Regions from separate parts of the Homo sapiens genome. Here all the other regions are linked to region 1. Evidence: fine-mapped expression QTL. A gene starts in region 1. Each other region holds a variant in brackets. All regions are shown on one strand. Distances are from middle to middle. Region 1 holds the start of GPR107 (G protein-coupled receptor 107). Region 2 overlaps GPR107 (G protein-coupled receptor 107). Region 3 overlaps GPR107 (G protein-coupled receptor 107).

The links.
Region 2: its variant is fine-mapped to the expression of GPR107 in whole blood (TOPMed, PIP above 0.99).
Region 3: its variant is fine-mapped to the expression of GPR107 in whole blood (TOPMed, PIP 0.99).

Annotation. Positions count from the first base shown.
Region 1 is chr9:130,047,769-130,058,037 of GRCh38, forward strand. GPR107 (G protein-coupled receptor 107) reads left to right here and starts at 6,138. Exons shown (of 18, transcript NM_020960.5): 1 at 6,138-6,305. The coding sequence starts at 6,165. It also overlaps a transcript of FNBP1 not described here. RefSeq lists an enhancer at 1,086-1,586 and a silencer at 6,126-6,435.
Region 2 is chr9:130,127,216-130,137,484 of GRCh38, forward strand. GPR107 (G protein-coupled receptor 107) reads left to right here. Exons shown (of 18, transcript NM_020960.5): 16 at 268-351; 17 at 1,425-1,546; 18 at 7,810-10,269. The coding sequence ends at 7,906. Among named protein-coding and RNA genes, the nearest start is that of GPRACR, 12 kb to the right of the region's middle. RefSeq lists an enhancer at 1,743-1,962. The variant C/T (reference allele first, on the strand shown) is at 6,456.
Region 3 is chr9:130,098,201-130,108,469 of GRCh38, forward strand. It overlaps GPR107 (G protein-coupled receptor 107), which reads left to right. Exons shown (of 18, transcript NM_020960.5): 10 at 1,257-1,332; 11 at 2,429-2,502; 12 at 2,906-3,023; 13 at 6,220-6,350; 14 at 9,296-9,339. Among named protein-coding and RNA genes, the nearest start is that of GPRACR, 41 kb to the right of the region's middle. The variant G/A (reference allele first, on the strand shown) is at 6,370.

The DNA.
Region 1 (10,269 bases):
ATAGATGGCTGTGTGGTTAGAGGCAAACAATTGTATTAGGGCTTTTTGGCAATTCTAACCCTGCTTGCAACTAATAAACATCTAATTCGGGATCTTAGGTGGACAGATATTTATATAGCTGTAGATAGATATGAGATTTTAAAGCAGATAGGGTTTTGAAATTGTTAAATTGGGATCCCAGTGTTCCACTACTTATTAGTTGTGTGGCCTTCTGCAAGTTACTTACATTATCTGAGCTTCAGTTTACTCATTGAGAAGACAGGGATCTTGGCCAGACGCAGTGGCTCACGCCTGTAATCCCAACACTTTAGGAGGCCGAGGCAGGCGGATCGCTTGAGCCCATGAGTTCAAGACCAGCCTGGGCAACATGGCAAAAACCCATGTCTACTAAAAATACAAAAAAATTAGGTGTGGTGGTGTGCCTGTAATCCCAGCTACTCAGAAGGCTGAGGCAGGAGAATCGCTTGAACCCAGGAGGCAGAGGTTGTAGTGAGCCGCGATCGCGCCACTTCACTCCAGCCTGGCGACAGAGCAAGACTCCATCTCAAAAAAAAAAAAAAAAAAAAAAAAAAAAGACAGGGATCTCATAGGTTGTCATTAGTCTGAAATGAAGGAACTGGGGTTGAGTACAGTCTTTGGTGTTAGCCAGATTTGTATAGTTCTGTCCAGACAGCTATAGAGAGCTTTGGCTGAATTACTTTCCTTCTCTAAGCCTCAGTTTCCTTTTTTTTTTTTTTGAGACGGAGTCTCGCTCTGTCGCAGTGCAGTGGCGCGATCTCAGCTCACTGCAAGCTCCGTCTCCAGGGTTCACATCATTCTCCTGCCTCAGCCTCCCAAGTAGCTGGGACTACAGGCGCCCGCCATCACGCCCGGCTAATTTTTTGTACATTTAGTAGAGACGGGGTTTCACCATGTTAGCCAGGATGGTCTCGATCTCCTGACCTCGTGATCCACCCGCCTCGTCCTCCCAAAGTGCTGGGATTACAGGCGTGAGCCACCGCGCCCGGCCCAGTTTCCTCTTTTTTTTTTGAGATAAGAGTCTGGCTCTGTCGCCCAGGCTGGAGTGCAGTGGCGCCATCTCCGCTCACTGCAAGCTCCGCCTCCTGGGTTCAAGCCATTCTCCTGCCTCAGCCTCCCGAGTAGCTGGGACTACAGGCGCCCGCCACCATGCCTGGCTAGTATTTTGTATTTTTAGTAGAGACGGGGTTTCACCGTGTTAGCCAGGATGGTCTCATCTCCTGACCTCGTGATCCGCCCGCCTCGGCCTCCCAAAGTGCTGGGATTACAGGCATGAGCCACCACTCCCGGCCAGTTTCCTCTTCTTTAAAATGTAAATATGGCCATGCACAGTGGCTCATGCCTGTAATCCCAACACTTTGGGAGGCCAAGCCAGGCAGATCGCTTGAGACCAGGCATTCAAGACCAGTTTGAGCAACATGGAAAAACCTGGTGTCCACAAAAAATAAAAAAATTTGCCAAGCACAGTGGTGCACAACTGTAATCCCAGCTACCCGGGAGGCTGAGGTGGGACGATTGCTTGAGCCTGGTAAATTGAGGCTGCAGTGAGCCTTGATCATGCCACTGCACTCCTGAGAGCGAGACCCTGTCTCAAAAATCAAAAAATAAAATAGAAATAATGCTACTTCAAAGGTTATTGTAAAGGTTGAAAGAAAGGTGGCTTATGCCTATAATCCCAGCACTTTGGGAGGTGAAGGTTGGAGGACTGTTTGAGCCCAGGAGATTTAGACCAGCCTGGGCAACATGGCGAAACCGTCTCCACAAAAAAATACAAAAATTAGCCCGGCACGGTTGTGCTTAGCTACTTGGGGGCTTGAGGCAGTAGGATCGCTTGAGCCTGGGAGTTGGAAGCTGCAGTGAGCCGTGATTGCACCACCGCACTCCAGCCCGGGAAACAAAGTAAGACTCTGTCTCAAAAAAAAATAAAAATAAAAATAAAAATTAAAAGAAAGAATACGTATAAAATGTTTAGCACATAATATACACACAAGTATCAGTTCCCTTTCCTTTCCTCCTGTTTTCTGGAGGATTTTTACTTATTGTAGAAAATAAAGCAATCCTTTCAGCATTTTCTTTTTTTGTGTGTGTTTTGTGTTTTGTTTTTGTTTTTAGAGAGGTCTTGCTCTGTTGCCCAGACTGGAGTGCAGTGGCATGATCATAGCTCACTGCAGCCTTGAATTCCTGGATTCAAACCATCTTCCCCAGTAGCTGGGAATACAGGCCTTTAAACATTTCTGATGCAGCAGGACCGCCTGCCTGAACTTACAGTTGATTGGTTGTCTACTGGTGAAGAACTACTTCTAATGAAATTCTCAGGATTTTTTCTTCTTCAAAATTACTTGTTTTTAGCTTAAAATTTCCAACTTCTTTTGCATTCGAACTACTTACTAGGGACTCAAGAAAGCAATCAACTGGAAAAAGTGGAGTAGGATAAAACCAGGAACTCCATGGTGAGTGAAATGCTAAAACTGCAATGAATTTTTACAACGAATAATCCAATTCCCCTGTAAAGATGTACATAAAATCAAGAAAGACTGCCTGTCCTGTGGCTGAGCAAGTTATACACTAGGGTCGTCAGGTTGAGGAGTAATTTTGAAGTTTCTCTCCAATCCACAGGACTCAAAGTGTGTCAGAGCCTGGCTTTTCCATGATCACTTTCTACAAAAAGATGCACTTGGAGGCATTCCCGACACCCCAAGAAATGCATGAAAACTTTAGCTGCAATCCTGGAAGAAATGGTGTTTCAAGCCAAAGAATGAAAAGTAGCATTTGACTTCTGAATGTATTGCTAGGCCCCAATTTGACCACTAGTTTCCTATACTGTCTTAACAGAGGCTTTTGGTTTGCAATATCAATCAACTCTTTTTTTTTTTTTATTTGACAGGGTCTTGCTCTGTCACCCAAGCTGGATAAAAGTGTCATGGCTTACTCCAGTGTTGACTCCTGGGCTCAAGCAATCCTACCACCTCTCTGCCTCCTGAGTAGCTGGGACTACAGGTGCGTGTCACCATGCCCGCTAATTTTTGTGTTTTTTTTTTGTTTTTTTGTTTTTGTTTTTGAGACAGAGTCTTGCTCTGTCGCACAGGCTGGAGTGAATTGGTGCAATCATGCTCGCTAATTTTTTTTTTTTTTGAGACAGAATCTCGCTCTGTCACACAGGCTGGAGTGCAATGGTACAATCTGGGCTCACTGTAACCTCCGCTTCCCAAGTTCAAGCGATTCTCCTGTCTCAGCCTCCTGAGTAGCTGGGATTACAGGCATGCGCCACCATGCCTGGCTAATTTTTGTATTTTTAGTAGAGATGGGGTTTTGCCATGTTAGCTAGGCTGGTCTCAGACTCCTGGCCTCAGGTGATCCACTGACCTCAGCCTCCCAAAGTGCTGAGATTACAGGCCTGAGCCACCGCCCCTGGCCTAATTTTTGTATTTTTTGTAGAGAAGGTGTTTCACCATGTTGCCCAGGCTGGTGGCAAACTCCTGGGCTCAAGTTATCCACCAGCCTTGGCCTCCCAAAGTGCTGGGATTACAGGCATGAGACACCAGCCAGGCCTATCAAGTCTTTTGATAAGAAAAACAAATGGCAATTATACTTTCTTAAACTGGAGACTATTAACACATTAATTACTTAAAAGAGTTCTGAAAATGTCCAAACCGATATCAAATAATTATTTAATAATAATAGCACTAGATTCAACACTACACATTCTAGTAGCAACCTTAAGCTGATCCTGAAAAGTTAGAGAAAATAGTCCAGGCAGGGTGGCTTACGCCTGTAATCCAGCAATTTGGTAAGCCGAGGTGAGCAGATCACTTGAGGCCAGGAGTTCAAGACCAGCCTGGCCAACATGGTGAAACCCCATCTCTAGCAAAAATACAAAAATTAGCTGAGCATACTGGCGCACACCTGTGGTCCCAGCTAGGGAGGCTGAGGCATGAGAATCCCTTGAACCTGGGAGGTGGAGACTACAGTGAACAGATGTCACACCACTGCACTCAGTCCTGGGCAACAGTGTCTCTGTCTCAAAAAAAAAAGGAGAGAAAATAGAAAAATAAAATGTACTTGACTAAGAGAGTAAGGCTAAAAGCCAAGCTTAGGAGATCAGTCTTTCCAGCCCCTGCAGGCTTTTTCAGTCAATACCTTAAAGTGTAATGTCCCTTTGAAAATGTTGCCAGGAGAAGCAGGCATAACTTGTTCTGTTACTCAGCCTGTTTGTTTCCAGTTACAGCATCATGATTATGCAAATAATCTTTTCTTGAAACTATGAAATCACATGGCTAAATGTAATTGTCAAGGCAGCAGTTTTCTAGAATTTAAGAAGTAACTGTAGAGAAAATGCTCAACAATGTCTTTGTAGTCAGTTTTCCCTCATTCTTATTCCTCTCAATTCCAAAATAATGACTGGCACAATACAGCTTTCAAATATGTGAAAGAAGAAGATATCCTCTTAAACCCCTGGACAGACAGCACTGGTATGACCCTATGTAGGTCACATGATAATACCCAAGTATAGAGAAGCAAGGAATGCTATGAACCCAGTTTTAAGCCCTTATAAAACTGTTGTCCAGAAACTAAGACAAAAGTCTCCTATTTAAAACTATTTTAATGTTTCATCACTATTGTATTATAAAATGGGATTAAGATTCTTACCTGATTTTTTTTTTATTGAGACAGAGTCTCACTCTGTCACCCAGGCTGGAGTGCAGTGGCATGATCTTGGCTTACTGAAACCTCTGCCTCCCAGGTTCAAGTGCTTCTCCTGCCTCAGCCTCCCCAGTAGCTGGGACTACAGGCGCGCGGCCGTGATGCCCCGCTAATTTTTGTATTTTTAGTAGAGACGAGGTTTTGCCATGTTGCCCAGGCTGGTCCCGAACAACTGACTTTCAAGTGATCCGCCCGCCTCGGCGTTCCAAAGTGCTGGGATTCAGGCGCGAATCACCACCCTGCCAGGCCTCATTTCGTTTTTAGTACAGTATTATATTCAAATTTAAAACCAGAGATTTTCAAAGATGCCACTTAACTTTAAAAGATAAAAAGTACTCCAAAGCAGGTTGGGCGCAGTGACTCACGCCTGTAATCCCAGCACTTTGGGAGGCCGAGGCGGGAGGATAACTTGAGGTCAGGAGTTCGAGACCAGCCTGGCCAACATGGGAGAAACCCCGTGTCTACTAAAAATACAAAAATTAGCCGGGCGTGGTGGCGCAGGCCTGTAATTCTAGTTACTCCAGAGGCTGAGGCAGGAGAATCGCTTGAACCCAGAAGGCGGAGGTTGCAGTGAGCTGAGATCGTGCCATTGCACTCCAGCCTGGGTGACAAGAGCTAGACTCCGTCTCAAAAAAAAGAAGTTCCTATAATTTCTGAAAGAAGCAAAGAAAGTTTCCATACAGAATTAAGAGAAAAATGTTAAGACCCAGACTTGGGGTTGGATGAAATAGCATGAGGCAACAGAACACAGGAGTTAAGAGCTTCCGTGTGATTCCCAGCTCAACCTGGAGCAAATGACTTATTTCTCAGAGCCTCAGTTTGCTTACCTGTAAAGTAGGAATAATGATAATACGTACCTCCTAGCTCATCAAATTGTTCCAAAAATTAAATACAACAAAAGGCCTAACAAATTGCCTCATAAGGGCTCAATCAATCGTATTATTGCAACCATTTCGCTTGTATTTGAGTGTGAAGCGCCTAGAAAACCACAGGACCCCTACGGCGAGCCGGGAATTTTTAGATATTTTCCTCCGAGTCAACGCTCAGTGAAATCAGTTCAATCAGTGGCCCGACACCGTGCGGCTGACACAGCTTATCCCCCGACCCTGAGATCAGGGGTCCCCGGAGCCCAAGGTCGCTTCCAAAGCTCAGCGAGGCGGAGGTGCGGCCCGGGCTGGTCTGGTTCGGCCACCGTTGTTATGGCAACCGCCAATAGGTTGGCTTCATCTCTAACTGAAAGTCTGCACAGGAGCGGCCGATCGAAGGGCCCCGAGGTGGGCAGCACAGGCTCCTCGACGACTTCCTAGGTCGCAATCTCCAGGAAAACGACCACAGGGTCAGCGGAGCTAGCCGCCGAGCCCCGCTCCCCGGGCCCTTCCGGCGGCTGCGCCCTTTCACCCCGGACGTGGGCGGGAGAGGAAGCGGCTGGTGATGCTGGAACAAACATGGCCGCTCTGGCGCCCGTCGGCTCCCCCGCCTCCCGCGGTCCTAGGCTGGCCGCGGGCCTCCGGCTGCTCCCAATGCTGGGTTTGCTGCAGTTGCTGGCCGAGCCTGGCCTGGGCCGCGTCCATCACCTGGCACTCAAGGTAAAGCTTGGCAAGGCCGGGCCGGGGGGCGGAGGCCGAGGCCACTCCCCGGGTTTTAGGGCAACTTTGGCCCATTGGGGACCTCTGAGCCACTGGACCACCTCTTTGCCCCTGGCTGCGGCCTTTCACTGACAGGTGGCGGGGTCTGTGGGGAAGGCGGGTCTGGGCGGCGCTGGGGTCTTCGGGCTGACCGGCACGGGGCGGGAAGACTCGAGCTGAGGGAGGGGAAGGGGCTGAACTGTGGCGTTGCCCCCACGGACTCGGGAGGCTGCTCTTAAATCCCTGCTGGCTTCCCTGAATTCCTCACTCAGGGCAGCCCGATCGCCTTTCTTCTTTCTCCCCTCCAGCTTTTATGCTGGCTTTCCTTGTCCGCGGTCTCCGCTCTTCTGTGCCCTTGTACTGTACCGGCGGTTTGAAGGTACTTGGAACCTTAGCCTCAGTTTCCCATTTCGGTTTAGGGCGCTCTCTGGAGCGAGACTCTAGAGAAGGAATTTCAAATCTTGCTTAAAACACGTGACTGAGAATGTAAAGCCAGCATTAAGGTGTGTCTCTAATCAAAGGGCCTGCTTTTTCTTCCTCTATCCAGCCATTGTCTAGGGAAGAGAGATTTTTGATAAACCTAGAATGATACTCTGGATCTTGCTTTGTAACTAGCAGAGAAAAGACCTCTAAGGCTGAAACGCACCCTAAGGTGGTTCAGCAGTTTACTATATCTGGGAAATTGTCCAGGTGCTGTGGCTCATGCCTGTAATCCCAACACTGGGAGGCCTATGCAGGAGGATTGTTTGAGCCCAGGAGTTCGAGACCAGCCTAGTCAACGTGCTAAGGACCCCCTCCCCAAACCTGTCTCTACAAAAAATTAAAAATTAACCAGGTGTGGTGGCAAACGCCTGCAGCTTCTGGGGAGGCTGAGGCTGGAGGATCACTTGAGCCTAGGAGGTTGAGACTGCAGTGAGCCGTGATTACTCATTGCATTCCAGCCTGAGGAACAGAGCAAGACCCTTTCTCAAAACATATAAACAAAATTAGAGACATAGAAAAGTAAATTGTTATGACCCAAACTCTTGTACATTATTTTCATACCATACAGTCTTCTAAGAAGTGGAACTGTAGGCGGGGCGCGGTGGCTCACGCCTGTAATCCTAGCACTTTGGGAGGCCGAGGCAGGCAGATCACGAGGTGAGGAGATCGAGACCATCCTGGCTAGCACGGTGAAACCCTATCTCTACTAAAAATAAAAAAAAAATTAGCCAGGCGTGGTGGCAGGCGCCTGCAGTCCCAGCTACTCGGGAGGCTAAGGCAGGAGAATGGCGTGAACCTGGGAGGCGCTTGTAGTCCCAGCTACTCGGGAGACTGAGGCAGGAGAATGGCGTGAACCCGGGAGGCGGAGCTTGCAGTGAGCCAAGATCCCGCCACTGCACTCCAGCCTGGGCAACAGCGCGAGACTCCGTCTCAAAAAAAAAAAAAAAAAGAAGTGGAACTGTAGAAAGTTTGTCTTGTAAAAACACATTGTTTTAGCAAACTATGAAGCATTGTATTTTGTTAATGTAGAATTTAAAGAATACAGAATGAAATTAAAAGCCTGGCTTGACTGGGCACGGTGGCTCACACCTATAATCCTAGCACTTTGGGAGGCCGAGGTGGGCGGATCACCTGAGGTCAGGAGTTCGAGACCAGCCTGGCCAACATGGCAAAACCCCTCTCTACTAAAAATACAAATATTAGACGGGCATGGTGGCACATGCCTGTAGTCCCAGCTACTTGGGAGGCTGAGACAGGATAATTGCTTGAACCCGGGAGGCTGAGATTGCAGTGAGCAGAGATCATTGTGCCACTGCACTCCAGTCGGGGCGAAAGAACTATACTCTGTCTCAAATAAATAAATAAATAAATAAATAAATGCAAGCCTGACTGGATCCATACAACCTTACTTTTTGGTAACAACTTTTGTTGTTTGTAGGTAAAAATTATCCTGATTAAAATGGTTCAATCACAGGGGTGGGGGTGGGGCAAGTGAATTTTGACTCTTTGAGAATCTGTTGAGAGCTATAGAACCTCTCTCCAGAAAAGTGCATGTAGAAATGTAGACAAAACTTGGCCGGGCACGGTGGCTCACGCCTGTAATCCCAGCACTTTCAGAGGCTGAGGTGGGTGGATCACTTGAGGTCAGGAGTTTGAGACCAGCCTGGCCAACATTGTGAAATCACATCTCTACTAAAAATACAAAAATTAGCCAGGCGTGGTGGCAGGTACCTGTAATCCCAGCTACTCGGGGCTGAGGCAGGAGAATCGCTTGGACCCAGGAGTAGGAAGTTGCAGTGAGCCAAGATTGAGCCCCTGTACTCCAGCCTGGGCGACAGAGCAAGACTCCGTCTCAAAATAAATAAATAAATAAAATAAAATAAACATCCGAAGTCAGGGGTGTCCAATCTTTTGGCTTCCCAGGGCCACATTGGAAGATGAAAAGTTGTTTTGGGTCACACCTAAAATAGACTAACAGTAACCATAGCTGATAAGCTTTAAAAAATTGCAAAAAAATCTCATAATGTTTTAAGAAAGTTCACAAATTTGGCTGGGCGCAGTGGCTCACGCCTGTAATCCCAGCACTTTGGGAGGCCGAGATGGGCGGATCACAGGGTCAGGAGATTGAGACCATCCTGGCTAACAAGGTGAAACCCCGTCTCTACTAAAAATACAAAAAATTAGCCAGGCGTGGTGGCAGGTGCCGGTGGTCTCAGCTACTCGGGAGGCTGAGGCAGGAGAATGGCATGAACCCGGGAGTCGGAGCTTGCAGTGAGCCAAGATCACGCCATTGCATTCCAGCCTGGGTGACAGAGCGAGACTCCTTCTCAAAAAAAAAAAAAAAAAAAAAAAAAAAGAAAGTTCACAAATTTGTGTTGGGCCGCATTCAAAGCCATCCTGGGCCGCATGCATCCTGGACAAGCTTGTTCTGAGTTCTTGCCCAAGGAAATGGAAATCATTTGAAGAGAGCCTGTCAGAGCAGCAACTTTAGATTGTCTGTTTTGCTTGAGACTGAGTGAAATAGGGTACTTGATCAGATTAGAGACCCATAATGGCAAGGATAACATGAAGAGGTCACTGAGTACCAGGAGTATGCGTTGATCTCTTAAAACCTGGCTGCGCCTGGTAGCTCACACCTGTAATCTCAGCACTTAGGGAAGCTCGTTTGAGGTCAAGAGTTGGAGGCTGCGGTGAGCTATGATGGCGACACTACACTCTAGCCTGGGCGACAGAGCAAGACCCCATCTCAACAACAGCAACAAAAATTAGCCAGATGTGGTGGTGCATACCTATAGTCCCAGCTACCAGGGAGGCTGAGGTGGCAGGATCCCTTGAGCCTAGGAGTCAGAAGCTGTAGTGAGCTATAATGGCTCCAGCCTGGGGGACAGAGTGAGACCCTATTTCTTAAAAAAAAAAAAAAAAAAGACAAAGCAAAACAACCTTTTTATTGTGGAGAATTTCCAATATACTAAAGCAGATAGAATAGCATAATGAACTCCCATGTGCCTGTCACCCTCAATAACCATCAACACATGGCTGATTCTGCCTCATCCCACATACATCAATTTCTGGTTCTTATTTTTTATTATTTTTAAAATTAGAAATGAGTCCTCTTATATTTTTATTGTCTTACTCCATGCTACATTTTCCACCATTCTTCTGGCTTTCCCAGTCTTCTCACAGTCCATCTCTTTTGACTTTTCCCTATATTCCTTGCCTTTTTATTTATTTATTATTATTATTTTTTTTTTTTGAGACAGAGTTTTGCTCTGGCACCCAGGCTGGAAAGCAATGGCGCGATCTCAGCTTACAGCAACCTCCGCCTCCCGGTTCAAGCGATCTCCTGCCTCAACCTCCCAAGTAGCTGGGATTATAGGCATGCGCCACCACGCCTGGCTAATTTTTGTATTTTTAGTAGAGATGGGGTTTTGCCATATTGATC
Region 2 (10,269 bases), 79 kb after region 1:
CAACCTGACTAAAGTGTCTTGTGCTCCCGGTGGGTGTGGCTGTTAGCAATATCTTGGTCACCTGGAGAGAGAGAAGAAATTCAAGTGTAACTAGCAGAGTAGCCATGTCTCTCCGCTGCACGTATTAATTCACACTGTAAGTGTCACATACTTTTCTTTGAGTGATTCTGTTTTCTGTTTCCTAGTTCATTTGTGAAAGCAAATTGTTAAAGTGGTGTCCTAATTTTAATGTTGATCTGATTTCCTGTTTCTTTCCTCCTCATGCAGATTGTGTGTTACATATACTTCACTAGGATCATTGCATTTCTCCTCAAACTCGCTGTTCCATTCCAGTGGAAGTGGCTCTACCAGGTACGCTGCTCACAGGGCAGAATGCCAGAGAATTTATGCCTGAGGATAAAGTCTTGAAGTGTAACTTAACAGTTGTTACTAATTTATCTGGGAATGACCACTAAGACCTTCCATCTCTTCTTTTTTTTAACTAAAAATTTTTTTTTTAGTTTTTGAGACAGGGTCTCACTCTGTCACCCAGGCTGGAGTGCAGTGGCGCAATCTCAGCTCACTGCAACCTCCACCTCCCGGGTTCAAGCGATTCTCCTGCCTCAGCCTCCTGAGTAGCTGGGATTATAGGGATGCACCACCATGCCCAGTTAATTTTTGTTTTTTTAGTAGAGATGGGGCTTTGCAGTGTTGGCCAGGCTGGTCTCAAACACCTGATCTCAAGTGATCCGCCCACCTTGGCCTCCCAGTGTTCTGGGATTACAGGTGTGAGCCACCACACTTGGCCTCCTTCCATCTCTTCTGGCCTATAATTGAGATGATCTGTTTGTCCAGAAATGCTGCTGGATTCTATGAGGAATCTGAAAATAATTGCATTCTTGATTTTAGTTTTCAGTCTTAAAAGTCAAGAGAAAAGCTTCAGGTAGAGAAAGATTTGCCCTGAATCATTAGAACTTAGATGAGATGTGGTCCTTTCCTTTAGTTACAGGGCTGAGTAGTTAGAATTCAGGCTGCCCTTCTTCTTTGCCCATTTTATTATTTCGATAATAAGTATCTTTGCGACAAACTAGAACTAGCTTAACTACTAGAGGAAGCCACCAAATGACTTTTTTCTTGAATAACTCACTGGGTGCTGTAGGCACTGTGGGAGGAAGTGGGTATGTGGTGAGCTCTTAAAAGCTACCCATGAAGACTGGTGAAAGCACAGCAGAGCACAGCCTCGGAAATGTCAGCCCTGGGCAGGACACTCCTCGTTTAGGCCTCGGCAAGTCTAAGGAAAATGCCCTGTAGCAGGAAGTGGCATCTGAGTAAAGAACCATCGAGTGGTGGGTTGTGGGGAAATATGTCAGTTTGTTGAATTCCACTGCTTTCTGAAGAACAGTGTTGCTAATCTCTTTATTTTGGGGTGGTTTTTAAACTTGCAGCTCCTGGATGAAACGGCCACACTGGTCTTCTTTGTTCTAACGGGGTATAAATTCCGTCCGGCTTCAGATAACCCCTACCTACAACTTTCTCAGGAAGAAGAAGACTTGGAAATGGAGTCCGTGTAAGAAATCTTTCTTCCCTCTTCCTTAGCCCTGACCCCTTTGCCTAACACAAAGCAGCACAGTGTGAATCGGGTCGGCTGCTCTCAGCATTTCGTGGCTGCAGGGGTGGTTCCTCTATTTTTAGCAGAAGGAAGCGGACACTGGAGCCCCAGGCTGTCTGATCTGGTTTGAAGTACAGTATCTGCCAAACCTAGCTGGGTCTTGTCAGGGAAGATGGAACTTGCCGTTCCACTAAGCATCATTGGAGCCTGCTTTCAAGAACTCAGTGGCAAGAACTTAGGAATATACGTGGCCAGTTCACGAGGGAGAACAGGGGGCCGACTTTCTGTCAGGCCCGCCATCAGGCGCTTACGTCTGAAAATGGAATCTTCTGAGTCATCTCTAAGTCTGCTAATGATCCTCAGACATCCTCTATCGTCAGATAACTGCGTGGCTTTTCACAGCACAATGACTTTGACCTATATCTGAGCACTAATAGGGGCTTTTCTGAGTCACACAGTGAATGACTCTAGGGTCCTATTTTCTGGGAAAGGGCCATCATTGTCTAGAAAAATGAGTAGTGATTAAGCATATTTGCTTGTTAACTGAAATTTGATAAGCCAGGTCAATGCTGTGTTTGATGATTAGCCTAAGGCAGAGTTTTCCCTTCTTGGTTCACTGGTATCAAGTGTTCTGCCCCCAGCCCTGGCAGCCTTTGAATTCTTCCCAATTCAGAGGCTGAGACTCGGCCCATGCTAAGCTCTGCTTGGCTGTCAGCGGGTCAGGCAGCATGGGACAGCTCTCTCTGCTCAGCTCCACGGCAACAGTAAAGGAAGGCAGGTCCTGCCAGCGGGCGCCAAACAGCATCTCCCCATGCAGAGGAAGAAACACCTCCTTCTAAACAGTGGAGAGGAGTGCAGGAGGCCCATCAGCTGTGCCTTTCCCAGAAGTGGCAGGATCTGAGCAAGTGTCTGTTGGTTGAAGAGGCACACATGTCAGGCTGGCAACCAGCAGCATCAGGAAATAACCTAAGACGCGGTGTGTTTATCATTCCCCTGCTGGGAGCCTTTGGCTTGGTCCGTCCGCATAACACGGGGTTCTTTGGGTAGGCAGCTAGAAGCCGAGCGGCCGGGTCGCAGCATCGTCTCCTTTACTGCATTGTACTCCACAGTCGTAATGGGAGGTTCCCGCTTCCCACATCCTTTCCCTCAGCCGTTACATCTTGGAGCCTGGATGCATTATGAAGGTATTTTTGTTTCGTGGCAACAATTTTTTTAAAATTTTGTTTTGGTGCTTCTTTGACAACGCGGCCCACGCAGCTGCCCTCTGTGCAGCCATTACCCCACCAGGCCTGACACAGCTTCTCTCTCTGGGCCTGGGTATGAGGGCACAGTCCAAAGTAACACTGACTTTCTCTCTCTTTCCCCTTCTGTTTCTTTGACCATCTCTCTTTAGGCCTACCAGTTTTGGCAACAGAAGTTACCGGTCAATAATCAGCAAGTTAAAAAGTATCGGATGCGATTTCAATTATCAGACTTGGTAGCTGCCTCCTAGGCTGTGGGTATCCTCAATGATCTGAATTACTTCTGTCATCTTGAGGAGTGAGAGTGGAAGGAAATGTTTGGTGTGGGTTCCTGGGCCAGGAGGTTTTCTCCCTGGGGTTCCCATTCCAGAACGCTGTCCTCATTCATGGTTGCTGTTCACCTTTCACCACTCCCTGCATTATTTCATGTGGGCGAGGAACGTGTGTGGAAATGGGGATTGGGGACTAATAGACTTGTCTCTTCACCAGGTCTCCCCACACTTCCAGACCAGAAAACACTTTTTAGTTATAGAAATGGATATATCGGCTGGGTGCAGTGGCTCATGCCTATAATCCCAGCACTTTAGGAGGCCGAGGCAGGCAGATCACGAGGTCAGGAGTTCGAGACCAGCCTGGCCAACATGGTGAAACCCCATCTCTACTAAAAATACAAAAATTAGCTGGGCGTGGTGGCAGGCACCTGTAATCCCAGCTACTCGGGAGGCTGAAGCAGGAGAATCTCTTGAAATCGGAAGGCGGAGGTTGCAGTGTGCTGAGATCACGCCACTGCACTCGAGCCTGGGCGATGAGAGTGAAACTCCGTCTCAAAAAAGAAAAAAAAAAAAAAAACGCATGAATCCGTGGACCACTTAGGCCCAAGCCACATTTGATTGCAGTCTTGTGTGGCAGAAGGAACCTGTGTCCCATTTGGCACTTTTGGTTGCAAACACAGAGACTTGGGGCTTTGCAAGGAAAGGGGGTTACTGTTTAGATGTCAAGGAAAGAACGCTTATCTGCGGCGGTCGGATGTTGGCCCTTCAGCTGTTCGGTCCCTTAAGTGTTTGCACCAAAACTAGGACACCTAGTGAGGTGGCTGCGAAGCTGCTGAAGCCCCACCGCCGTATGTTCCTGCCAGGGAGGCTTTTGGGTGTTCATCTGACCCAGGTCTCTCTTCTCACTGCTGCAGAGCCTGAGCTTCCAGGACCGTTGCGGGCGCCCTGTCTGCAGGGGGCTAGCCAGGTTTCCTCACATCGTGGGGGCCCCAGGTGTCCCTTCAGCTTCCCAGAGGTTTGCTGGGGGAACAGGATGTAGCGCCTACCCCACCCTGGGCATCTGCCATCAGGTTTCTTCCTCTCCTTGAGTTCACTTCTGCCACTCCCAGTCCTGGCCACACACTGAAGCTCCCTGTCACCCGCCCTGCCTGTGACAACCTCCTGCGCTACCACACACCCTTACTCCCGTTCTCCCTCTTCGCACTCCCAGGACTCACCCAAGCCCAGGGTTGCCCCTGCTACCCCCTCACTGCCCCCGGCCCCTCCTGAATGCCAGGTCCCCCTGTCCTCCTGCTCCGCGTCACCTCAGCCTTGAAGCCACAGTCTTCCTGCATCACACCAAGCTCGCCCCTCCCCATTGTTCCCTATAGGCCTTGGTGACACGGACATCCACCCAGTCTCCTGCAGCCATGGCTGAACCACGTCCCTCTTCCTCAGCCCGTGCAGAGCGTCCTGTAGGCCTTACTTTGTGCCTCTCACCCCCAGCCCCACCCCGCCTCTTGCTCTCGTGCCTGGGCTTTGTGGTGGCTGACCTCTTCACTCCCGATCCTCTCCCCTTCCTGTCCATCCTTCTATTCCCCTGCAGACAGGGTCTCACTCTGTCACCCAGGCTGGAGTGCAGTGGCACTATCACAGCTCACTGCAGGCTTGAGCTCCCCGGGCTCAGGCAATCCTTTCACCTCAGCCTCCTTAATAGCTGGGACCACAGATGAATGCCACCATGCCCAGCTAATGTTTTTGTATTTTTTTGTAGAGATAGGGTTTTGCCATGTTGCCCAGGCTGGTCTCAAATTGCTGGGCTTAAGCAGTCCTCCCGCCTCAGCCGCCCAAAGTGCTGGGAATGCAGGCGTGAGCTGCCCTGGGAATACAGGTGTGCCCAGCCCTTCCTGTCCATTCTCCCGGGCTCTAGAATCACCTGTAGAGTGTTTTTGCAGTGCCAGTTTCCTGGCCGCACCCCTGGAGACTCTGATTCTCACCCCTTGGGCTCAGGATCTGTGCTTTTCTCACTCCCCAGGGCAGCCTGAGCAGGAGGCAGGGCTGAGAACTGCCAGAGTAGGAATCAAGGCCATCCTTGGGTGACCAGGCAGACTGGGCCCTCGACAACCCTGCCGTCCTGTGTCCACCCTGGTTCTCTCCCTGCCACTCTCCTTCCCAGACTGGCTGGATGTATTAAAATATATTTGCCGTAGGCCAGGTGCAGTGGCTCACGCCTGTAATCCCAGCACTTTGGGAGGCCGAGGCAGGTGGATCACCTGAGGTCAGGAGTTTGAGACCAGTCTCGCCAACATGGTGAAACCACATCTCTACCAAAAATACAAAAGTTAGCTGGGCATGGGGACATGTACCTATAATCCAGGTACTTGGGAGGTTGAGGCACGAGAATCACTTGAACCCAGGAGACGGAGGTTGCAGTGAGTCGAGATGGCGCCACTGCACTCCAGCCTGGGTGACAGAGCGAGACTTCATCTCAAAAAATCAAATAAAAAAAAAATATATATATATTTTTATATATTTATATATATATACACATATACAATCCACACACTGCAAGTACTTAGCACTCCCTCACTGCCCTGGGAAATGTCCTGGGTTTTTCCTTCATGCTTTTTGCCTGTTATATTTCTTCTTTTTGGAAACTCCCCTGACCTCCCACCCATCTTGTGGGCCAGATCCTCTGCATCTCATGACGGGCTTCCTGGCTTCCCCGATTCCCCGGCAGAGGGATTCTTCTCAGCCCGAGCCATCACCGAACCCGGTTCCCAGCACTCCTGTCTCTGTTGGAAGTGGCTTTGCAGGGTTGCTGTGGAAGACCATCTCTTCTCCTGGGCTGTGGGCTCCGAAGAGCAATAAGACCACTTCTTTTTCCTTGATGACCTAGCATGAGGCCTGTCTTGAAGAATAAAAGTTGTTTTCTCACTTGGCCCACCATGTGGAAAGGAGTATTTTCTTAGAGAAAGAAAGGGAGAAAATGTTTTTCCCAAGTCTGCCGTCAGGCCCATATCCGGGTCACAGTGAATGCGCTTTGCCTCTTAGAATCAACGTGCATTGAACTCTTTGTCCTTTTTTAACAAGATGCAGTAACCATAGGACAGCTGTGTGATTACTGGAGTGTTTCTGGAAGACGTGGGGTCGCATTTCTTTGTGGTCTCAGTCACTGTGGAGAGGCACGGGGGCTGCTACGTGGCTCGGGGCAGGGGCTTCTCTGGCTCATGCAAAGGCCCTACCTCCTGCATCCCCGTCTAGAGAAGGTCCCTTCAGGAGCAGCCCTGTGCACATGGATCCCTCCTGGGGCAAGTGTCTTCCTAAAGAGGCCAGGCCTGAGACACAAGCCAGCTGGCCAGAAGTGACGCTGGG[C/T]GGCTTCAGCTGAGGCATTTTCGTCTTAGGGGATGCTTTTAGAGTCACTTATAGCATCTATGGGATCTGGCCACATACCTTGTCCCAACTTTGCCATAAGTACAAATAACCTGTGAGTCTAAAGGACTCGTTTGAGAAAGGTTCCGGCTTGGGGGATTCTTTGAGCCTGGGCATGGTAGCACCATAATGGCAAGAATGAAGAGATGAAGAAGAGGGGGAAGTTTTCTTCCCTTACCCCATACAAACATTTACTTACCATGAGGTCCAGCTGCATGCACTCTAGATGGGTCACATATACGGCCACTGTGTTGCCATTTGTAGGGGAAGGGGTTAGGTAGTTGGCAGAGGGATGGGTTGGGTCCTTGGAAAGAGCCTGTTGAGTTGATTGATTGAATTTATTTTACTGATGAGGAAATTTCTTTTGGTCCACCATGGGGGAGCATAAATCCTCATTGTTTCCTCGCTTGCAGGGAAGATGCTGGGCCAAGCGGCTTTTGACACCCAGTATCTCTGCCTAGTTCTGCTACTCACAGAGCCACCCAGTTCCCTCATAGACCAGCTCACCTTCTGTGAGGCAAGAGATTATCCTCTTGAGAAGGTGGGGCCCGTGCATGTGATTCCTTCTAATGGAAAGGGCTGCCTTGCTCAGCTCCTCATGCCCTGCGAGACCAGCGATCTTCCATTTTTAATCCTTGATTTCAACGAATGGCTCCATGGGGCCTCCTCAGAGCCAGGCACCAACAGACAGAGCCCCGGGAGCTCACAGAGTGGAGGCAGAGGCCATGCGCTGAGGCACAGCCACATGGCCCAGCCCCAGCTAGCAGAAAGCAGCCAGTTCTCTGTCTATAGTGGCCAAAGAATCTTTGATCCTGGAAGGTTCCTCTAAACCTGTGGTTCTGTCCCCTGGCTCAGAAATGATCCATTGTGGCTGCTTATTAAAAATGTCTGGTTGGCTAATTAGCTTTCTTTTCTGAATGTCCATTAAGAGTCAGATTTCAGTCTCATAAGCGTAACTATCACATATCTGTGCGCCACAAAAATTCCGCAAGCTGTGACAAAAAGATTCATGATGATTGTGATAACGATAGCTGGTGTTTATTGATTAGGCACTCTGGAGAATCTCATTTTTCCTCATGACAGTTCTGGAAAGTGAGAATTACTTAAGCACAGAGAGTTCAAGTGACTTGGCCAAGGTTACACAGCTAGTAAGGAACGAACCAGGAATCACACTTAGATTTTGTCTGTTTCAAAAACCAACACCCATCATCAGTCCTAATCACCGTGCTGTGGCAGAGATGGCCTTTTACTAAGAGACTGTGAGATGTTCCTAATTGTTTTTTCTTTCCTTGTTCAGTGTGACAACATCTGGGGTGATGGAAAGTATGAAGAAAGTCAAGAAGGTGACCAACGGCTCCGTGGAGCCCCAGGGCGAGTGGGAAGGCGCCGTGTGACAGAGCCGACCCTGAGGATGGCACTGTCCAAGGAAACTGTTAACTTATTCATAGTCCTATTGGACAGCAGGAGCAGCTCCTACAGTGAACTATTGGCACCACCGACAGTGACACCAGGGCACATGGCTGGAGCACAGTGCCGCGGAAACCTGATTTTGTACTCTCTTTTATGGAAACGATCTGTGGCTGTTTAGAGGCAGCTGGATCCTCTTTCAGGCGGGAATGGGAGGGCGGGCACAGGGAGGAGGAGAGGAAGAGAAAAGGAAGAATTCATTTTTAATTTAGGTTTCTTTTTTTCTTCTTCATTTCGGAGCTCTAAGGTGTATGCAGTTGTGACCCCATGTGTGGGGAAGTGTAGCAAGGACGGCTGGTGGAGGGGGAAGGAGGGTGCGAGGTGTCTGTCTGATGCTTTAGGAAATGTCTACTGAGGACCCTGGGACTTAAGAAGAAGGGCGGGGAGAGTGCCATTGCCTGTTTGGGAGACAAAAATGAACGAAAACAGGTGACTTTGGAAAGCAAAGTCAAAACCCAGTTTAGGATGTAGCACCTGCCCCAGGATTCCTGCCCTCGGCTTTGCCCCAGACCCTTATTCCAGATGCTGAGAGTGACCAGGACAGCAGCTCCTGAGGCCCAGTGGTCTTCTTTCCAACAGGAAAAGAAGGCTGTGATGTCGCTGTCAGGATCATGCCCTGTGGCACAGCACAGGTGGTGGGAGGTGGTTTTCTGACTGAGATGTTGCCTGATGGATGGAAAGAAATGTATTTTTAAGTTCAAAAAGCATTATCCTGTGGCGTTGCCTGGACATCCACTCCCTGACAGCCCAGAGCAGCACTGTCTGGCTTCCCTTCATGCTTGTGGCTTTGTTGTGTTTGATCAGAATTTTGGGGGAAATGGAAAGTTTTCCTCAAGGAGCAGCTGGGGGCAGAATAGGTAGTATTTAAGCAAATACTTAAGTCCAAGCAAATCATCCCCATTAAAAAGCTTTTCCTGTAGGCTAGTAGGATTTCTAAATAGATGAATTCAACAGACTTGGTCCCCATAGTCCAAGAGTATGTATGTGAAGAAAGTGAGCATGATTCAACAGTTTCACTCTCAGGGATTTTAGGATGGCAAAATACTTCACAGAAACTCAATGATTAAGTTCCCTTCCACACTTCCAGAGCTTGAATGAACACAGGTAGCCACCTAAATTGAGCAGTATTGCAACTCAGAGAGAAAATCATCTGAATAGTAGGACAAGCTCAGAAGGTACATTGTGACTGAGGGCTTAAAAGGAGACCAAAACATGGCCCCATCAGGGAAGCTTCTTAATGCTTGGGGGGCCAGCTAGGTAGGGTTGCTTCCAAAAGCTGGAGCCCACCCCTGCCTAGGGGTTGTCAGAGAGCCACACCTGCAGGGGAACAGGTACCTCCGAGGGTGAGAGTCGTGGTCTCTGGGAGTTGTTTTCTCACCTCTGGCTTAGAAGGGTCAGGCAGAAACCACAGGATGTGGGGTCACACTCACTGTCCCAAGTTTGGGAACCTGAAAAAGTCTCCATTCAGAACATGGTTGTTCTCCCTGTCCCATGCTATCTTATCTTCCTAAATGACTAATGAGGAAGCGGGTGTTCTTTTTCTGCACTTTGATTCGCCATCTGGGTTCTGTAGGGTGCTCTGAAGGTGTGATCTGCCTTCTGGCTGATGTGGAGGAAGAGCAAGCGCCTTCCCAGGCCACAGCTGCTCACCTCTCGGCAGATATTTTAGGCAAGCATCCGTGTGTCTTCCCATCTTCAGGAGAAAGGTAAATGCACCCTAAGTGTTCACTTCTGGACCTTTTTCAAGTTCACTTGGGACTGTGTGACAGAAGGGAGTTGGAGGGAGGATGGGAATATTTTTAACACTTTGTTTTCCTGTGCAGAAACATAATACCAGTTTTCGCAGAAATGTGTCTCAATCTGTGACTACCAAAGCCCTCCTCAGTCCTTCCCTCAGAGGGACACATTTGCTGTTTCTCCCGCAAGCAGATGTTGTGGATGAGGCGATAGACTCCTTGGCAAGAACGAAAGGTGTGATGAAACCTCCCTGCTCGGAAGGGTCTCCGTGGAGGTGTCCTCATTTCACATGCTGGGTTTTGCAAGCGAGGAAGCCAGGCAGTGGAGGAACTAGAGAGAGGCAGGCGTGTGTGTGGACAAGCGCTGGAGCCGCAGCCCTCAGACTGGCACGGGAACGCCAGCGTTGGGTGTTCAGATTCCACGCGTATGTCTGGGCTCACTCACAGCATGGCCGAGTGTCTGCAGTGCTGGTCCTGACCCTTCCAGAGCAGCAGTGGACAGATGAGATAAGACTGTTTCAGAAACAAAGATGGCCACAGCCTTCCTAACAAGC
Region 3 (10,269 bases), 50 kb after region 1:
TTCTATTAGGTTAATTCCTAAGGGGAGGTGGGAAGGAGTAGAGGAATTTAATGCCCGGCAGCCGAAAGGTGGACTAGTATCTGTGATGGGGTGGGCATGGGAATGGGTGCTTTGTCTCATTGGCCTGGGGTATTTGCAGACACCAGCCATGAAGGAGAGAGAAATGGGCATGACCCTGGCACTTTCTCCTCACACATCCCTACTGCTGGCTCCCAGTCCCCCTACTCTGGGCTGCAGACTTCCCCTACAGCTATTTGTAATCGCTTTCTGCTTTCCTAGGAGTTCTGTGCTGTTTTCTCAGGTCCATCTACCTCATTCTTGCCTCTGGCTTTCCCAGGGTGGTTTCCGGGAACAAGCTGGCAGCCTGTGTTAGATTTCCATTTACTCAAGAGTTGGAATCCATCATGTCTAGCTTTGGTGCATAACTCTCAGGTTCATTCACAACATTAAATTGTGTATTAGAGATTACTTTAGGACTCCATTCAAGGCCTTTTTTACCAGCAAAACGTACTTTATAAAAAAAGTGGCTGGGTGTGGCGGCTCACCCCTGTAATCCCAGCACTTTGGGAGGCAGAGGCGGGTGGATTACTTGAAGTTACAAGTTCAAGATCAGCCTGGCCAATGTGGTGAAACCCTGTCTCTACTAAAAATACAAAAATTAGCCAGACATCTTGGCGCACGCCTGTAATCCCGGCTACTCAGGAGGTTGAGGCGGTGGGGGGGCATCACTTGATCCCGGGAGGTGGAGTTAGCGGGGAGCCAAGTTTGTGCCACTGCACTCCAGCCTGGGTGACAGAACGATACTCTTGTCTCAAAAAAAAAAAGTTTTAGCTGGGTACAGTGGCTCATGCCTGTAATATCAACACTTTGAGAGGCCGAAGTGGGTGGATTGCTTGGCCAGGGGTTCAAGACCAGCCTGGGAAACTTAGCAAAACCCTTTCTGTATAAAAAATACAAAACAAATTAGTTGGGCATGGTGGCATACACCTAAAGCCATCCTCCCACCTCAGCTTCCTGAGAGCTGCTTGATCGCTTGAGCCTGAGTTCAAGGCTGCAGTGAGCCGTGATGACACCACTGTCCTCTAGCCTGGGCGACAGAATAAGACCCTGTCTCAAAAAAAAAAAAAAGTTTCATGTTTGTGGTTTGCACAGATTATATTTCCTGTCTCCTTATAAATATAGCTAATGTCTGGAGCTTTGGCTGTCCTTTGGGAGAATGGAATCTTCCTTTAATTGTTTTCTCTCTGTTTTTATAGGAATGATGTATTTAAAATCCACTGGCTGATGGCGGCCCTTCCTTTCACCAAGTCTCTTTCCTTGGTGTTCCATGCAGTATGTATTAGCATTTTGAGGATCATTCATGAAATTACGTATAATGCCTGTGTGAGCAGGCAAAAGAAATTTGAAGAAAGGGGATAGATTGGTGGGAAACAAAGACAAAGAATACATTTCTCATAAAGCCTCCTCTTGTCTGGGAGGGCCTGGCCATGCGGGTAAATGATTACCACCTCCCCTCATATTAGACTTCAGACATCTTCTAATACTGCTTACAGACCTACAGTTTTTCTAGAACACTTATTATTGTTTTTATTTCTTTGTTTTTGGTTTGTTTTGTTTTTTTACCATTTCTAGAGATGAGAGTGCCACCTGCTGACTTGTTTCCACGACTTTTTTTTTTTTTTTTTTTTTTTTTTTTTTTTTTTTTTTTTTTTGAGACGGGGCCTCGCTCTGTTGCCCAGGCTGGAGTGCAGTGGCGTGATCTCTGTTTACTGCAAGCTCCTCCCCTCAGGTTCACGCCATTCTCCTGCCTGAGTCTCCCGAGTAGCTGGGACTACAGGCGCCCGCCACCACGCCCAGCTAATTTTTTTGTATTTTTAGTAGAGACGGGGTTTCACCGTGTTAGCCAGGATGGTCTCGATCTCCTGACCTCGTGATCCGCCCGCCTCAGCCTCCCAAAGTGCTGGGATTACAGGCATGAGCCACCACGCCCGGCCTCCACGACTTTTTTATGTTTCCAGATATTCCCTCATGTTCCTCTGTGATTTGAAGTTCAATTCAGTATTAGCATATTTATCTGAGAGAAAATTGATGCTATAAAGCTGGAGGCATGAGAATTGAGCCTCAGCTTTGTATATTTGGAACTTATGCAAATTAAAATGAACTTGCCCAAGGGGGTAAGATCACAACTTCTCCTGTCTGTGGGCCTCCAAGTGCCCGTGGAGCACACTTGCAAGGATGACAGTCTCTAGACATGTACTCTTTGCTGTACTTGAAAGTGGCCTCCTTGGAAAAGGCAATAATATATCCAGTGGCAGCGTCACCAAATGACAATGATTTGGATAATTTCCCAAATGGGTCCAAGTTAAAAGATTCTTTGTGGAGCCATGTAGATAATGAGTGATTCTGAAATGCAGTTGTTTGATTTCAGATTGACTACCACTACATCTCCTCCCAGGGCTTCCCTATCGAAGGCTGGGCTGTTGTGTACTACATAACTCACCTGTAAGTATGCAGGTCCATGTGAAATACACCATGAAATGACATACAAGACAAGGGGGGTGGGCAACAACCTGCCCCAAGTTAACCAGCCCTGCCCTCCTGTGGCAGCCTGTCTGGGCCCCTGCCATACCAGAGGAGTGTAGCTCATGGGTGGCTGTCCAGACTTGGGAAGTCGGGCTTAGTGGCATACTCCTGCCTCTCTGCGGCCATTGGCTGTCCAGGCTGTGGGGTGCAGAGCTAACTGTGTGCCCTGAAGGAAGTGGTGCTCATGTATGATGGATTTCCTAAATTTGGCTGCCCGTCTTTTGTAAGAAGCTTGTGAACTCATAGAATGAGCTATGCAATCTAACTGGCAGTGAGAGTCTAAAGAGACCTGCTGGTGTCTGTTCCTTGTTTTCTCTTCCAGTTTGAAAGGGGCGCTACTCTTCATCACCATTGCACTCATTGGCACTGGCTGGGCTTTCATTAAGCACATCCTTTCTGATAAAGACAAAAAGATCTTCATGATTGTCATTCCACTCCAGGTAAAAGAACCCTCATCCCATTTGTCACTTCCTTTCTTGGCGCTTAGCAGGGCTCAGCTCCAAGCCTGTATGGGAAGAGGGAGTCACCTCACCCTGAAACCCCAGCTTCTGCTAGTGGAGGTTGAAGACTGAGATTCTCTTTCTGAATTCTGAACAGACTTCAGGTCATTGCACTGGGAGATGCTTGGGCATCAGTCAGCCACTGGCCTTTGGGGGCCTAGATTTTGAGTAGAGAGCTGCTGACAGTGACAGGGAGACACACAGTAACACACAGTACTGTTTTCTCTTCTGCATCATTTGCTTCATAACTAAATGGTGCCCTTGGCAAGGAAGCTCAGAGATGTAGTGATTTTATTAACAAAGTATTTTAAAACCGTGAACTACACCAGTGAGTTTCCACAGGTAGAATATGGTAGTAGACGTGAGGGGCAAACATTTCCTAAATCCTTACCATGTTTGGGGCCGAGGGCCAAGGCCAGCCTTACAAGGCTGTGAGTCTTTTGCGGGAGGAGCCTTGTCTTACTGGAAGCAGAACTTGGATGTAAAGAACTTACAATGAACAGAGAGGTTTTAGCAGGGATGCACAGCTACCCTGCTCTGCTTGACCAGACAGCGTCTGTTTGACAGAGTTGTCCCTGTGAACTTTTCTCACATTTTGGAGCACAAAGTAAATGTGGAAGGTTGGGGGTGGAAGGGGACAACTCCTGAGGCACCCAGATCAGCCGTCCCAACTCTGGCAGAGTTTGCAGCAGAGCTCCTCTCGGAGTTCTAACAGACCTCATCCACCCTTACGTTCAATAATGAGGAACATGTGTTGACATCAAATGAATGGGACAGGCCAGTTGCTCTGTGTTTCCAAGGAGAGAATAAGCACTCAAGTTGGAAGGATCAAGGAGGGCTTTGTGACAGAGATAGGGCTGGCCTGGGTGTTGAAGGAAAGGAATGTGACAGAGGCAGTAAATACACATGACCCTGCTGTCTGCTAAGCAAAACATGCTGAGGGACTGTGCCGGTCTTTCGGCTGTCGAGCCACCGTGGTCACTTCTTCAGCCAGACTGAGTCCTACAGCCTGCCGAGGTCTCGGAGTTGTGAATGACGGAGACTGGGTTGTCACCCGGCTGCGTGTGCCTCTTCCCTTTAGTAGAGTCCCTCATCCCTCTAGAGTCTCCCCCCACCAGCCTGAACCAGGCTGTCGTGGGGCATAGCCTTCCAGGAAGCCCGTCCTGGGCTTCCCTGAAAGACAGACACACAGAGTTCCATGGAATGTCAGTCTGAGAAGATAAGGACATTTAACAAATTAAGAAAGTCATGAGTATTTAGACAATAGAACTAGTCTGGGAGGGCCTTAAATGTCAGCCTGAAAAGTTAAAACTGCTTCCTTTTGGCCATGGGCAGTGACAGAAAGTTTCTAAGTAAGGAGTAGATGATGTCCCTGCAAAATGGTGTTTCAGGAACACTCTTGGCACGTTGTTCAACACTGGGAACATTCTGTCTCTCATGCAGTGTGTGAATTAAGGACAAAATGGAATTTTGAATTTAAGATGTGAAAGCCTTTGTTTTCTACTTTGTCCTCTTACTTTTAGACAGGGTCTCACTCTGTCGCCCGGGCTGGAGTACAGTGGTGATCATGGCTCACTGCAGCCCTAAACTCCTGGGCTCAGGCGATCCTCCTGCCTCAGTCTCCCGAGTAGCTGAGACCACAGACGTACACCATCACACCTGACTAATTTTTAATTTTTTTTTTTTAATTAGAGGCCGTGTCTCACTATTTTGCCCAGGCTGGTGTCAAACTCCTGGGCTCAAGCAATCCTTCTGCCTTGGCTCCCCAAATTTCTGGGATTATGGGTATGAGCCACCGCACCCAGCCCTACTTTGTCTTTTTAGATGGAGCCACAGATGCTAGTGTTTTGGATAGACAGGGCTTCACGAGCAGTGTGGGACAGGGAAGGACCCAGAAGCTGGGGGTCATTGGAGAGGCTGAAATTTCAGATAATTTTTGCATTAGTTTTAAATGAAATTTCGGATAATTTGATTCTAAGTCCTGTATAGAAAGAGAAATTAAACTTAGAGACTTCCTAAATAATAGCACTACAGATTTTACATGCAAAGTGTGGAGGATTACCTTTTACAGCAAGTCAGGCAGAGATTTGGGACCAGGGACTTCTCATGGGGTATATAGGTGGAATGATAACCTCTGCATCCATTCCCAGTGGTAATCTTCAAAAGGATGTATTATAAGTGGTAAATTTCCCTTATGCTCTGTGGCATCTCAGTTTAGCCAGTGGAAAGACTTTTTATAAAGACTTATGCTAAGAGCCTAATAACGGGCCTGAGTACAGAGCTTAATAGTGGGCCTGAGTATATGAGGCTGTAGGGCTGGAATCAGCCATGCTCACCCTCTGGTCTCTGAAAACACAGTTCCATTGTCTGGCACTTAGATGAGTTATTGTCACTGAGCACCATGGCCTGAAAAGTATGGGCATTGTGGCTAAATAGGGTGTTAAGTGCCACCTATCCAGCAGTCCAGCACCTGAGTGACTCCACTGGGTTTGGGGTACCTGAAAAGCAAAGTGTCCCTGTTATCTACTGCTGCATAACAAATCACCCCAAAACTCAGCGACTTAAAACGACAATAACCCGTCATTCTCTCTCTCAGTTTCTGTGGGTTAGGAATTCAAGAGTGGCTAGCTGGGTAGGTCTGACTTGGGTCTTGTGGTCATAGTCACACCATGGCTGGGAGCATCTTGAAGTCTCCACTCGCATCTGTCTTCTGGGCTGAGAAGCTTGCTCAGGTGGGGACTGGGACAGCCGGGGCTCCTGGGGGGGCCTTTCCATCTCTGCATGGTCTGTACAGCAGGGTAGTTTCAGGGTAGCCAGACTTCTTACAAGAAGGCTTAGGGCTCCAAAGGTCCCAAGAGAGCTGGGTGGAAGCTTTATCTACCTTGGAAATCACACAGCAGTACTTCCATCTTACTGTATTAGAGCAATTACGGCCTGTGCAGATTCAGGGGGGTGGCATAGAGACTCTCCTTGATAGCGGAGTGGCAGAGTTCTGGAAGAGCACGTGGGACTGGAAAGAATGCTGTGGTCGCAGATCGTGGGTCTGGAGGCCAAGGTGTACACCCCACATTGGGGCTGCTAGCATCATAACAGTCCACCCATGCTTTGGGGCCTCAGCAACTTCTCATGTCTGTAGGTCCTGGCAAATGTAGCCTACATCATCATAGAGTCCACCGAGGAGGGCACGACTGAATATGGCTTGTGGAAGGACTCTCTATTTCTGGTCGACCTGTTGTGTTGTGGTGCCATCCTCTTCCCAGTGGTGTGGTGAGTAGCTCACAGGGAG[G/A]GAGGCCACATGACAGCTTGGCTGTCAAGCCCAATAGCTGAACTGGCCATTCCCAAACTGATCTCAGTCACATGGGACGTGTGTTTAAAAGTACAGCTTTCTGAGTCCCAGACTGACCTGAATCAGCCTCCAGGGGCAGAACCCTGTGTCTTTTTCCAGTTACTCGGGGTATTCTGGCAGAGCTAATCCGTCACCATGAGCTGGCATTTAACAGAGTTCTAAGACAATAGAGAGGAATTGGGAAATGAGAACTTGGTAGTAACTTAAAGTAGCAGCCTGAATTTGTGGTGGTGGTAGGGAGTTGGAGAAATCCCATAAACAGCCAGTTCTTGCCAACTTAGGTGGAAAATGAGGAAGTTCATTAACATAAAACTAGTGATAGTTCTCAGCACACAAACATTTTTGATGTTTTCAGAATGGATTGCTCCATTCCTGGAAATGGCAGTGTTTAGATGCACAGATTGTGCATTGGGTCTGTGTAAAGAAGTGTTAGTGTCAAGTCAGTGGTTGATGAGAAAATATCCTTATTAAATCACATGCAGAGTGGTAGAAATTCAGAAGGCTAGCAGCAATAAAACACTTTACCCTTAGTGATATAATTCCATGGCTATTGGAATGCAATTCTTTTGAAATAAATTTTAAAGAAAATAGATTCACCCCGGCCTTCCATTACAAGTGCTTCTTTTTTTTTTTTTTAACCCGAGATGGAGTTTCGCTCTTGTTGCCCAGGGTGGAGTGCAATGGCTCAATCTCGGCCCACTGCAACCTCTGCCTCCTGGGTTCAAGTGATTCTCCTGCCTCAGCCTCCTGAGTAGCTGGGATTACAGGTGCGTGTCACCATGCCTGGCTAATTTTTTTTGTATTTTTAGTAGAGACAGGGTTTCGCCATTTTGGCCAGGCTGGTCTCAAACTCCTGACCTCCGGTGATCCACTTGCCTTGTCCTCCCAAAGTGCTGGGATTATAGGCATGAGTCACCGCAGCTGGCTGAGGTGCTTCTTATTGCAATGCCCCATCCAGTAAATTAATATTTTTGAGGATCCTGGGGTTTGTCAGTTACTCTCATTATTTATAACATGGTGCAAATGGAGAGTACTTCTCATTCCAGCCAGTTAGATTCACTCTTCACCCTCATTCCATCATACATCACACATGATCTCGTATCAGTTCAGCAGACAGCTACCAGCATAGAAGAGAGTATGAATGATGCTCCCACCTCAGCCTCCTGGGTAGCTGGGACCACAGGCACACACTACCATACCCAGCCAATTTTTTGTAGACAGGGTTTTGCCATGTTGCCCAGGCTGGTCTCAAACTCCTGGGTTCAAGTGATCTTCCCACCTCAGCCTCCCAAAGTGCTGGGATTATAGGCATGAGCCACCGCACCCAGTGGAATATGAATGACTCTTCCTCCTCACTGCAGCCTCCTGCCGTCCTGCACAGGAATTAGTCACTCGGGTATCTAACATAGGATGTCCAGCATTGTTTCCAGATCGAAAAGAGCACCTCATTAGGGAACAGAGGTTCACACCCTACTTTTACACATGCCACTATCAGAATAGTCAAATATAAGGAACCCCAACAAGCTGTCGAGGTGTAAGCAGCCATTTCCTGCCCCTTGTTAATTACAACACTAATGAGCAGATTCCAAATGGCAAAATTCCTTAAGGTAAATATCCTAAAAATTACTGTAAAATGAAAAAAGTCAGTAAGTACTGGAGAGGTGATTCAAGATTAATAATATTTTTAGGCTGGGCGCGGTGGTTCACGCCTGTAATCCCAGCACTTTGGGAGGCTGAGGTGGGCGGATCACGAGGTCAAGAGATCGAGACCATCCTGGCCAACATGGCAAAACCCCATCTTAACTAAAAATATAAAAATTAGCTGGGCGTGGTAGCATGTGCCTGTAGTCCCAGCTACTCGGGAGGCTGAGGCAGGAGAATTGCTTGAACCCAGGAGGCGGAGGTTGCAGTGAGCCAAGATCATGCCACTGCACTCCAGCCTGGCGACAGAACAAGACTCTGTCTCAAAATAAATAAATAAATAAATAAATAATAATAATAATAATAATACTTGTAAATATCCCGATTCAGCCAGCATTGCTTCAGGGCCAGCAGTGTACTGGTTAGCTTTCGTGTGGTGTTCCATTCAGTTCTCAAGCAGATAGCCCCTCTCACAGGTGGGCAAATTACGGAGGATTTAGGAAGAGTAATTGATTTGCTGACAAGAGTGAGTGACAGTGTCAGACCACAGCCGCCTTCCCTCACACAGCCTGTCTGCCTGTGCCCTGTTCAGCCCTCAGGGAAGTCTCTCTGTTGGTGGCTTTTCATGGTGCCTCCACCTCTCACCTGCGGCTCCTGTAATAATGTTAATGTTCCTCTGCCTGAAATGTAATGATGGTCATTAGGTACCAGCACATCACAGCCCCAGACAGTGTCCCTGGAGGCTGGCATTTTTCAGCAGTGTTAAAAATCTCCACTCGATAAGTTTGCATGGTGCTGTATGTTCACAGCTCTTAGACCTAGACTCTAGAAGTCAGCTGGTGACTTTCTTCTAGGGTTTATTCTCTCCTGGTGGCAGGTGAGCCCAGTGATGCTCCATTGTCATGGGAGTGTTGGGTAGGGGGTGGTTGTGGGAGTGAGAGATTAACAGGAGCATTAAATGATGGAGTTTTGTTTTCTCCTCACGCTCTGGTCCCTGCTAGACTTATTGCCACAGATTTGGCCAGCAGAGGGCGACTTTACCTCAGACGTGTTGATATCAACCATTTCCCCCCCTCTACCCGTTTTAGGGAGAGTGCTCTAAAGTGATGTAGTCCAACCTTTCAGCATGTAATTGAGAAATTCAGCCTCAAGTTACTAGAGCTGGAAATAGAGAGGAGTGCAGATTTGTCAGCTAACTTTTTGTTCTCTAAATGTTTATTTTTAGGTCAATCAGACATTTACAAGAAGCATCAGCAACAGATGGAAAAGGCAAGTTCTCTCGTGCTCATTTTGTGTTGCTCAGCTTGCTCTGAACCCACGTGCTGCGGCACTGCGGAGGAGTGGAGGCAGCCTATGGTGTCAAGATGCTGTCTTCCTGGGAGGAGAGCTAGGGGAGGCCTGGGGCCCACTTCGTGAGAGCAGCCAGGGGTAGTTTGGAGAAGGAGGTGTTGAGTCAGTTGTATAAGGAGGAGGTTGGGGGTGACTGCTGCTTATTAAGATGATTCATTTCATTTCCACTCGTGGTTGTGATTTTCACCTTCTCAAAACTGAGTCAGCAAGAGAAAATCTTGTCTTAGAAGGGCCAGATAACACTTCGCTGTGAGAACAGGAGGGATAATGGATTGGAGATGGCTATGTGTAAAGCAGCCCTGCCTGCTGATTTAACACACTTTCAAAATAGATGTGTCAGTATTCATTTAAAGCAAGACTCTGATGACAGAAGGAACCTTGAAAACTACCTGATATTGAAATGGTTGTGCCCTTTATAGCCCTTTTGCATCTCCTTGACTTTCCAGTCATGCCTCCTAAATCAGAAGAAAAGCTGCAAAGAAAATGTTTTGTGTGGTTCTGGGCTTATTTGAATAATGTTCATGACCACAGGCTGCCATAGCACAAGTGAGAATTTCAGACCACAAGGGTTTAAGGAGCAGTGCTCTCTTCTCTCAAAGCTCAGAACGGTCTCTGGATCCATGGTATCGTACACCCAGTGTGGATATTAACATTCTTTAATGCAGGTTATGAATAATAAATAAAACAGGTTTTTGTTAATAAAGTTTTGTTGCTGACTCTATTTCTGATTATAAAGCCAATGTAGATTCATTTTAGAAAATTCGGAAAATGCATAGTAGCTGTAAATCTTCTTTCACAAACCTGGTATATAACTAATAACGCATTATTTCTTTAAGTTAAATTAAACAT